Homo sapiens: one gene and its partner. The protein of the gene in region 1 interacts with the protein of each later gene in a pairwise test. Each region holds a gene or a part of one and is shown in the gene's direction. Other genes may lie near its edges.

Region 1 (3,500 bases):
CTCCATTGACCTGTCAAATTGCACTTCTTCACCCTGCAGACACCCACAGGTCCTGGTGGAAATTTCCTTTTCTTGGCCAGGTGTAGACAGCATGTGTGTGCAGACCTCCAGAGCTGCTGGTTGACCTTGATCTGGGAGAGTGCTGAGGGCCACTTCACACTCACTCCCTTCTGTGCGGTGTGATCCGAGGCGGGTGTGGGGTGGGGGTAGTCGGGGAAGGGGCACATGCAGCAGGAGCACGGGAAACAGGAGAGGGATCCCACCTCTGCCGAAGCTCTTGGCACGGAGGGGTCGTGGTTGGGGAGCACAGAGGCGCTGGTCACCTGCGCCCGAGGGGGACGGGGTGCGTTCAGCCTGGTGGGCCGGGAAAGGGGTTCCCTGCTGTCCCAGGAGGAGGTCCAGCTTTTCACACCCAGGCACGTGTGGATGAACTTGATACTCAGTAGGGTTGTGAACGCTCACCCAGATGCTCACTCTGCCATCTCCATCTGGGCCTGGTGCTCTGCGGTCACCTGGCTGTGACGATGGCTGCTGATTACGAACATTGACCAGGTGGCCATGATGTGTGGCGGCAAATCTCGGGTGCCCTCTCATCCCTGGCCTGGCTTGTGGAGGTCGCTCTCCGTAAATTAACCGTTTTTCCCTGAAAACTTCCTGTTGCCTGCAGCCGCCCACGCAGAACATGAACCTGGGCCCTGGAGCCCTGACTCAGAGCGGCTCCAGCCAGGGCCTGCACTCTCAGGGCAGCCTGAGTGACGCCATCAGCACGGGCCTGCCACCCTCCTCCCTCCTGCAGGGCCAGATTGGCAACGGTGAGTGCGGCGGGGGAGGAGGACGTTCCTGGCTACGAGGCCACCAAGGCAGCCCTTGGGCAGCCGGCTGCCATGGTGGGGCACCCCACCCCTCACAGGGCTGGGCATGGGACCCACTCCTCCTGGGGTAGCCACAGGTCGGCTGCCATCGCCCAGGCTCAGGGCCGCAGCGAGCGTGCCGTGCGGCTGGGCTGAGCCCCTGCTCCAGTTGTCCACTCTCTCTGACACTGTCACGTTCCATCAAATTCAAATGCAAGTTGCGGGGTTCCAGGTGGATTGTGTAATAGGAATGGAATGCTCCTGTCTTTGGATTGAGAAGCATGGATAACGTTTGGAGACCATTAACAGTAATATAACAGGCCGGGTGTGGTGGCTCAGATCTCTAATCCCAACCCTTTGTGAGGCCTAAACCAGCAGACTACTTGAGGCCAGGAGTTTGAGACCAGCCTGGGCAATATGGCAAAGCCCCATCTTTACAAAAAATAAAAATATTAGCCGGGTGTGATGGTGCACACTTGTAGTCCAAACTGTTAAATACTCGGGAGACTGAGGAGAGAGGGTCACTTGAGCTTGGGAGGGTGAGGCTGAAGTGAGCCTTGTTCATGCCACTGCCCTGCAGCCTGGGTGACAGAGCCAGACCCTGTCTCAGAAAATAATAACAAAATAACAACAAATAAACGATTCATCCTGTGCTTTGCTAGCATGTACGCTGCTTTGTTTTCTTTTCTTTTTTTTTTGAGACAGAGTCTCGCTCTAGTCGGCCAGGCTGGAGTGCAATGGGCATGATCTTGGCCCACTGCAACCTCCGCCTCCCGGGTTAAAGCAGTTCTCCGGCCTCAGCCTCCCAAGTAGCTGGGATTATAGGCACGTGCCACCACACCTGGCTAATTTTTTTGTATTTTTAGTAGAGACGGGGTTTCACCATGTTGTCCAGGCTGGTTTCGAACTCTTGACTTCAGGTGATCCACCCACCTCGGCCTCCCAAAGTGCTGGGATTACAGGCATGAGCCACTGCTCCCGGCCACTTATTTATTAGTCACTTAATCATTAATAGTGCTGTTGATAGCAACTCTTCCCAAAGTCACTTGAAGGGAAATTGGGGTGTCTTCACCTTCAGAAGTGGTGACCTGGCTCCCCAGTGCCTGACACCACTCCCTGCTCCCCATGCCAGGGCCGAGCCACGTGTCCATGCAGCAGACGGCGCCTAACACGCTGCCCACCACCTCCATGAGCATCTCTGGGCCCGGCTACAGCCACGCGGGACCCGCCTCGCAGGGCGTCCCCATGCAGGGGCAAGGCACCATCGGCAACTACGTGTCTCGGACCAACATCAACATGCAGTCCAACCCAGGTACCTACTCTGCCTCTGCAACCCCGGGGGGCCTGGGCCTGCCTCCAAGACCCTTGACACATGCACGTTGGACATGTGGTCCCGGGGAAGCTGCCCTCCTGCTGGGTGCTGGAGGGGAGGGGCCCGTGAATCGGGGCTGGCCGCTGCCTCTGAGAGCTTCCGGAGGGATGGGCGCCAGTGGGTGCACGATCAACTCCTCCTGTCCCCCAGCTTTGCGAGGGGCTGGGGTGTTTCCCATGGAGTCTCAGGGAATGCCCCAGGGAGTGGGGGCCACTGGCCCTGGGTCTGGACAGACAGCACTGGGCTCTCAGAGGTGGGGTAGAGTCGGTGCAAGCAGCGGGTCTGAGCTTGCAGGGCGTCAGTGCAGGCCACGTAGGGGAGGCGTGCCTTGCGGTGGAGGACGCTGTCCTCGTGGGGAGCACAGGAAAATAACGAGGAACCCGCCCGGGCGCAGGAGGTAGTTGGGTGTGGGAGGGAGGGCGGGAGGCTTCCCGGGGTGATGTGGGGCCTCTGTCCTGTCGTTCAGTCTCCATGATGCAGCAGCAGGCGGCCACGTCGCACTACAGCTCGGCGCAGGGCGGCAGCCAGCACTACCAGGGCCAGTCGTCCATCGCCATGATGGGGCAGGGCAGCCAGGGGAGCAGCATGATGGGGCAGCGGCCCATGGCGCCCTACCGGCCCTCCCAGCAAGGTAACGCCCGGCCGGGCCAGGTCGCGGGCACAGCTGACCGCCGCGGGTCGTGAAGTGCCAGGCTGTGTGTGCTTCTCTTCGGGGAGCCTGGGGGAGTGAGGCGGGGAGCCTGGGGGAGTGAGGCTTGGCGCCTTGGTGTTAACATTGAGTGTGGACCCTGGGGGTGAGGGCCAGGGTGTGGCCCGTGGAGGGTCTGCTGTCCCCGAGGAGTCAGTGTTGGGGGCAGGGGCGGCAGTTGTCATTAAGAGTGTCACAGGCCGGGCTCATGCCTGTAGTCCGAGCACTTTGGGAGGCCGAGGTGGGCGGATCACCTGAGGCCAGGTGCTCAAGACCAGCCTGGCCAACATGGTGAAACTCTGTACTAAAAATACAAAACATAAGTTGGATACGATGACAGCGTGGGGTGTTCTCCTCGGGTGGGTGAGGCCATTCAGCAAGGCCTTGGCTTCCCCAGTGAGCGAGCAGGTCCTCTGAGGGAGGAGGGCGCGGCCCGCACTGGCGCTGAATGTGGTTCCCCCGCAGGCTCTTCCCAGCAGTACCTGGGCCAGGAGGAGTACTATGGCGAGCAGTACAGCCACAGCCAGGGCGCCGCGGAGCCCATGGGCCAGCAGTACTACCCCGACGGTGAGCACTGGCGGCGGCCTGA
Region 2 (3,500 bases), on another chromosome or scaffold:
GCCTTCTCTTTAGATCTATTGGAATTAGAAGATAAAAGCACTTTGTTTTTTAGAGATGGGGTCTTACACTGTCATCCAGGCTGGAGTGCAGTGATGTGATCGCAGCTCACTGCAGCCTCAAACTCCTGGGCTTAAGCGGTCCTCCTGCTTCAGCCTCCCAAATAGCTGGGACTGCAGGCACTTGCCACCATGCCTGGCTATTTTTTTTTTTTTTTTTTGTAGAGACAGGGTCTTGCTGTGTTTCCCTATCTGGTCTCAAACTCCTGGGCTCGAGCCATCCTTCCACCTCAGCCTCCCAAAGTGCTGGAATTATAAGCATGGGCCACTTCACCTGGCCAAAAGCACATTTTTAAAATATTAATGCTTAATTAATGTTTATGAAACATTCTGTGCCCATACCATATATTGGAATCACTGGTCACAGCCATCTCCTTTGAATAAAAGCTGTTATTATGAAAGATGGAAAAATTTCAGAAAACAGCAAAATAATTATTTTTTCCCCCTGAAATTATTACATTTGATGAAGATTTTTCCCCCTTTTGTTTACACCTGCTGTATATACCTGCTTGCTTTTTTTCCCTCGAGCTTATCTTTTGTTTCACTTTTTATCTACTGAACTAGTTGGGAGGACAAAAAGGAAACTCACATTTATTGAGCACCTATTATATGTTGAGGTCAGTAATCCAGTGAGTGCAACTGGCAGATAGTTGGAGGTTGTATTACATTGCCATGGCAGTTGCATAGATGGCACTGCAGGTTAGTTAGTGCTAATTGTTGCCTACCGCTTTGAGTTTTCTTCACATTCAGCTTCTCTTGTATTTGGTTCAACTAATATTATTCATCTTTCCTTAACAGTTGGTTACAGAGAGACACATTTCCCTTATTGATTTGAGGATTAAGGTCGTAGAAATATGGTTATGTGTTTAATTTTTAAATACTGTCCTATAATACTGCAGGCCTGGTTCATACACATTTCTAATAATTCTTTTAAAACCTCATTTATTTTTATGGTTTACTTACCTTTTAAAAAATATTTTGAAACTAGTTCTTTTTATATTTGTTTTAAAAGTTACATGAGGCTGGGTGTGGTGGCTCATGCCCTGTAATCCCAGCACTTTGGGAGGCCGAGGCAGGTGGATCACTGGAGGCCAGGAGTTTGAAACCAGCTTGGCCAACATAGTGAAACACCATCTTTACTAAAAATATGAAAAAAATTAGTCGGGCATGGTTGCACACACCTGTAATCCCAGCTACCCATGAGGCTGAGGCATGAGAATTGCTTGAACCCAGAAGTGGAGGTTGCAGTGAGCCAAGATCGCGCCACTGCACTCCAGCCTGGGCAACAGAGCAAGACTGTCTCAAAAAAAAAAGTTACACGAGTTTTTGATTGATCTCATGAATATTCTTCTCAAAGAGCAAAAGCCATCCTTATATCTTTGGTGTTATTTTGAATGGAGACAGAACAGGTAAGGCCTAAATATTCTCAGTCCTTTATGTGAGCCTAGTTTTTAAAATCTAAGTAATGTTTGTTTACACTGGACATAATATTCTTACTGCTTTTCTAGTGAGGAGATTTCTAGTGAAGATGATGAGCTGGTAGAAGAGAAGAAGCAGCAACGAAGAAGGGTCCCTGCAAAGAGGAAGCTGGAGATGGAGGACTATCCCAGCTTCATGGCAAAGCGCTTTGCCGACTTTACAGTCTACAGGAACCGCACACTTCAGAAATGGCACGATAAGACCAAACTGGCTTCTGGAAAACTGGGGAAGGCAAGTGTGTGTATGCGCGCATGTATGTGTAAGATAGGTTGTGGCAACTTGAAGAAGTTTTAAGAAATTGGAACTACAGCTCATTTATATGGATGTTGTCACGATGTAATGGTAATCATTCATTTCTATAGCAAAATCTACTGAACTTCTGGCACTGGGGTTTATACGATTCAGACTTGGGATTTTAACTTTATTAGAAAGAATGTTTTATTCTTAAAATTGAGGCCTTGTAAGTGTTCAAGTGCTGAAAATCCAAATACTTTAAAGGAGTGGATTTCAAAGCAATAATTATTAAAGTATCAGAAGCTAATCTCCGTGTGTAGAAAAATGATATGACCTGCTTAAGACTAACTTTTTTTTTTTAAGAACAATTATAGCCACTCACAAACTCAGTCCTTTACAGAAAGTCCCTCCTGAAAAGATGATTTTCTATCTCTCTGCTGACACAGAAAGATAGAGAAACCAATGTAGCTTGCCTTCAGCACTGATTTTCTGCATTATCTGACACTGCTTAATGTTGTTGCAGGGTTTTGGTGCCTTTGAACGCTCAATCTTGACTCAGATCGACCATATTCTGATGGACAAAGAGAGATTACTTCGAAGGACACAGACCAAGCGCTCTGTCTATCGAGTTCTTGGCAAACCTGAGCCAGCAGCTCAGCCTGTCCCAGAGAGTTTGCCAGGGGAACCGGTAAGAACTCTGTAATGCAGAGTGATTATGGGGAATAGTTTCTATGAGGCTTATTAGCTGAAAAACTTGTAGCTATTACCTGTTTATATAAGAGGTTAGTGAGAGAAAGGAAAGCAACACTACTTTACTGGATTACTGAGAGAAACTTGAGTGTATGTGAGAGGAGAGAGTTTTTAAAAATGGGGCTTCTATTAACTCCTGTGTGTCATCTTCTCTTAATTTTGAGTTTGATGCAGGAGTCTGGTAGTAGAAGCATTCATAATCCAATTTTCAAAATTCAGTTTTAAAGCTACTTCTGTAGAAATGTCAGTATTGAAACAAGTGTGTACTTTAGGCTCAACGTTTGCCATTTAGGTACTTTAGAAAGGGTGCAGAAGTGGAATAGTCAAATTCTTTTGTTTAAAGGAAACATTTAAAATTTTTTAATTATGGAAGAAATATATACTTAATCCTTTTTTAGTTTATAGCAACTTAAAATGAAAAGCAAAATTCTCTACTCTGAAAATTTCACTCCTGAGGTGAAATTTTTTTATTTTTTTTGTCAATTGCCTGTTAACGTAACTCCTGAGGTGAAATTTTCAGTATTTAATAGTTGTAACAAGTTTACAGTTAATAATTAATAGTTGTAACAAGTTTTTGGGTCTTTTCTATTTGTGTAACTATATATGTGTGCAAATAACAAATATATATGTATAAATATGGTTGCCTTTTTTACTAAATGAGAGACATTTATGTAGTATAAATATGTAAAATATTACAACTGTATTTAAAGTCTTGCAACTTTTAAAATCTAATAAGTCCTAGATACTCTTTCCATTTCATTACCTAGAGAGCTACCTCATTTTTCCTAATGACCTCAAAGTATTCCATTGTATGGATATGCACTATCATTTATGCAAACAATGGATATTATGTTGTCTCCAGTTTCAGAAACACTGCTACAGGAAAGATTCCTGTACATGTATTATGTGTTCGTATAAATATATGGGTAGATTTCTTGAAGTGGAAGTGTTAAAGAAAATACACCAAATTCTGATAGATG

What was found.
Region 2: the proteins of SS18L1 (region 1) and AATF interact in a two-hybrid assay, tested with the Homo sapiens proteins (one large-scale study listed by BioGRID and IntAct).

What each region holds. Positions count from the first base shown.
Region 1 is NC_000020.11:62,160,769-62,164,268, forward strand, and holds part of SS18L1 (calcium-responsive transactivator), read left to right. Parts: exon of another isoform or gene 1-667; coding exon 668-812; intron 813-1,983; coding exon 1,984-2,163; intron 2,164-2,689; coding exon 2,690-2,854; intron 2,855-3,376; coding exon 3,377-3,478; intron 3,479-3,500. UniProt on the Homo sapiens protein: Transcriptional activator which is required for calcium-dependent dendritic growth and branching in cortical neurons. Recruits CREB-binding protein (CREBBP) to nuclear bodies.
Region 2 is NC_000017.11:36,986,954-36,990,453, forward strand, and holds part of AATF (protein AATF), read left to right. Parts: intron 1-1,565; coding exon 1,566-1,767; intron 1,768-2,293; coding exon 2,294-2,458; intron 2,459-3,500. UniProt on the Homo sapiens protein: Part of the small subunit (SSU) processome, first precursor of the small eukaryotic ribosomal subunit.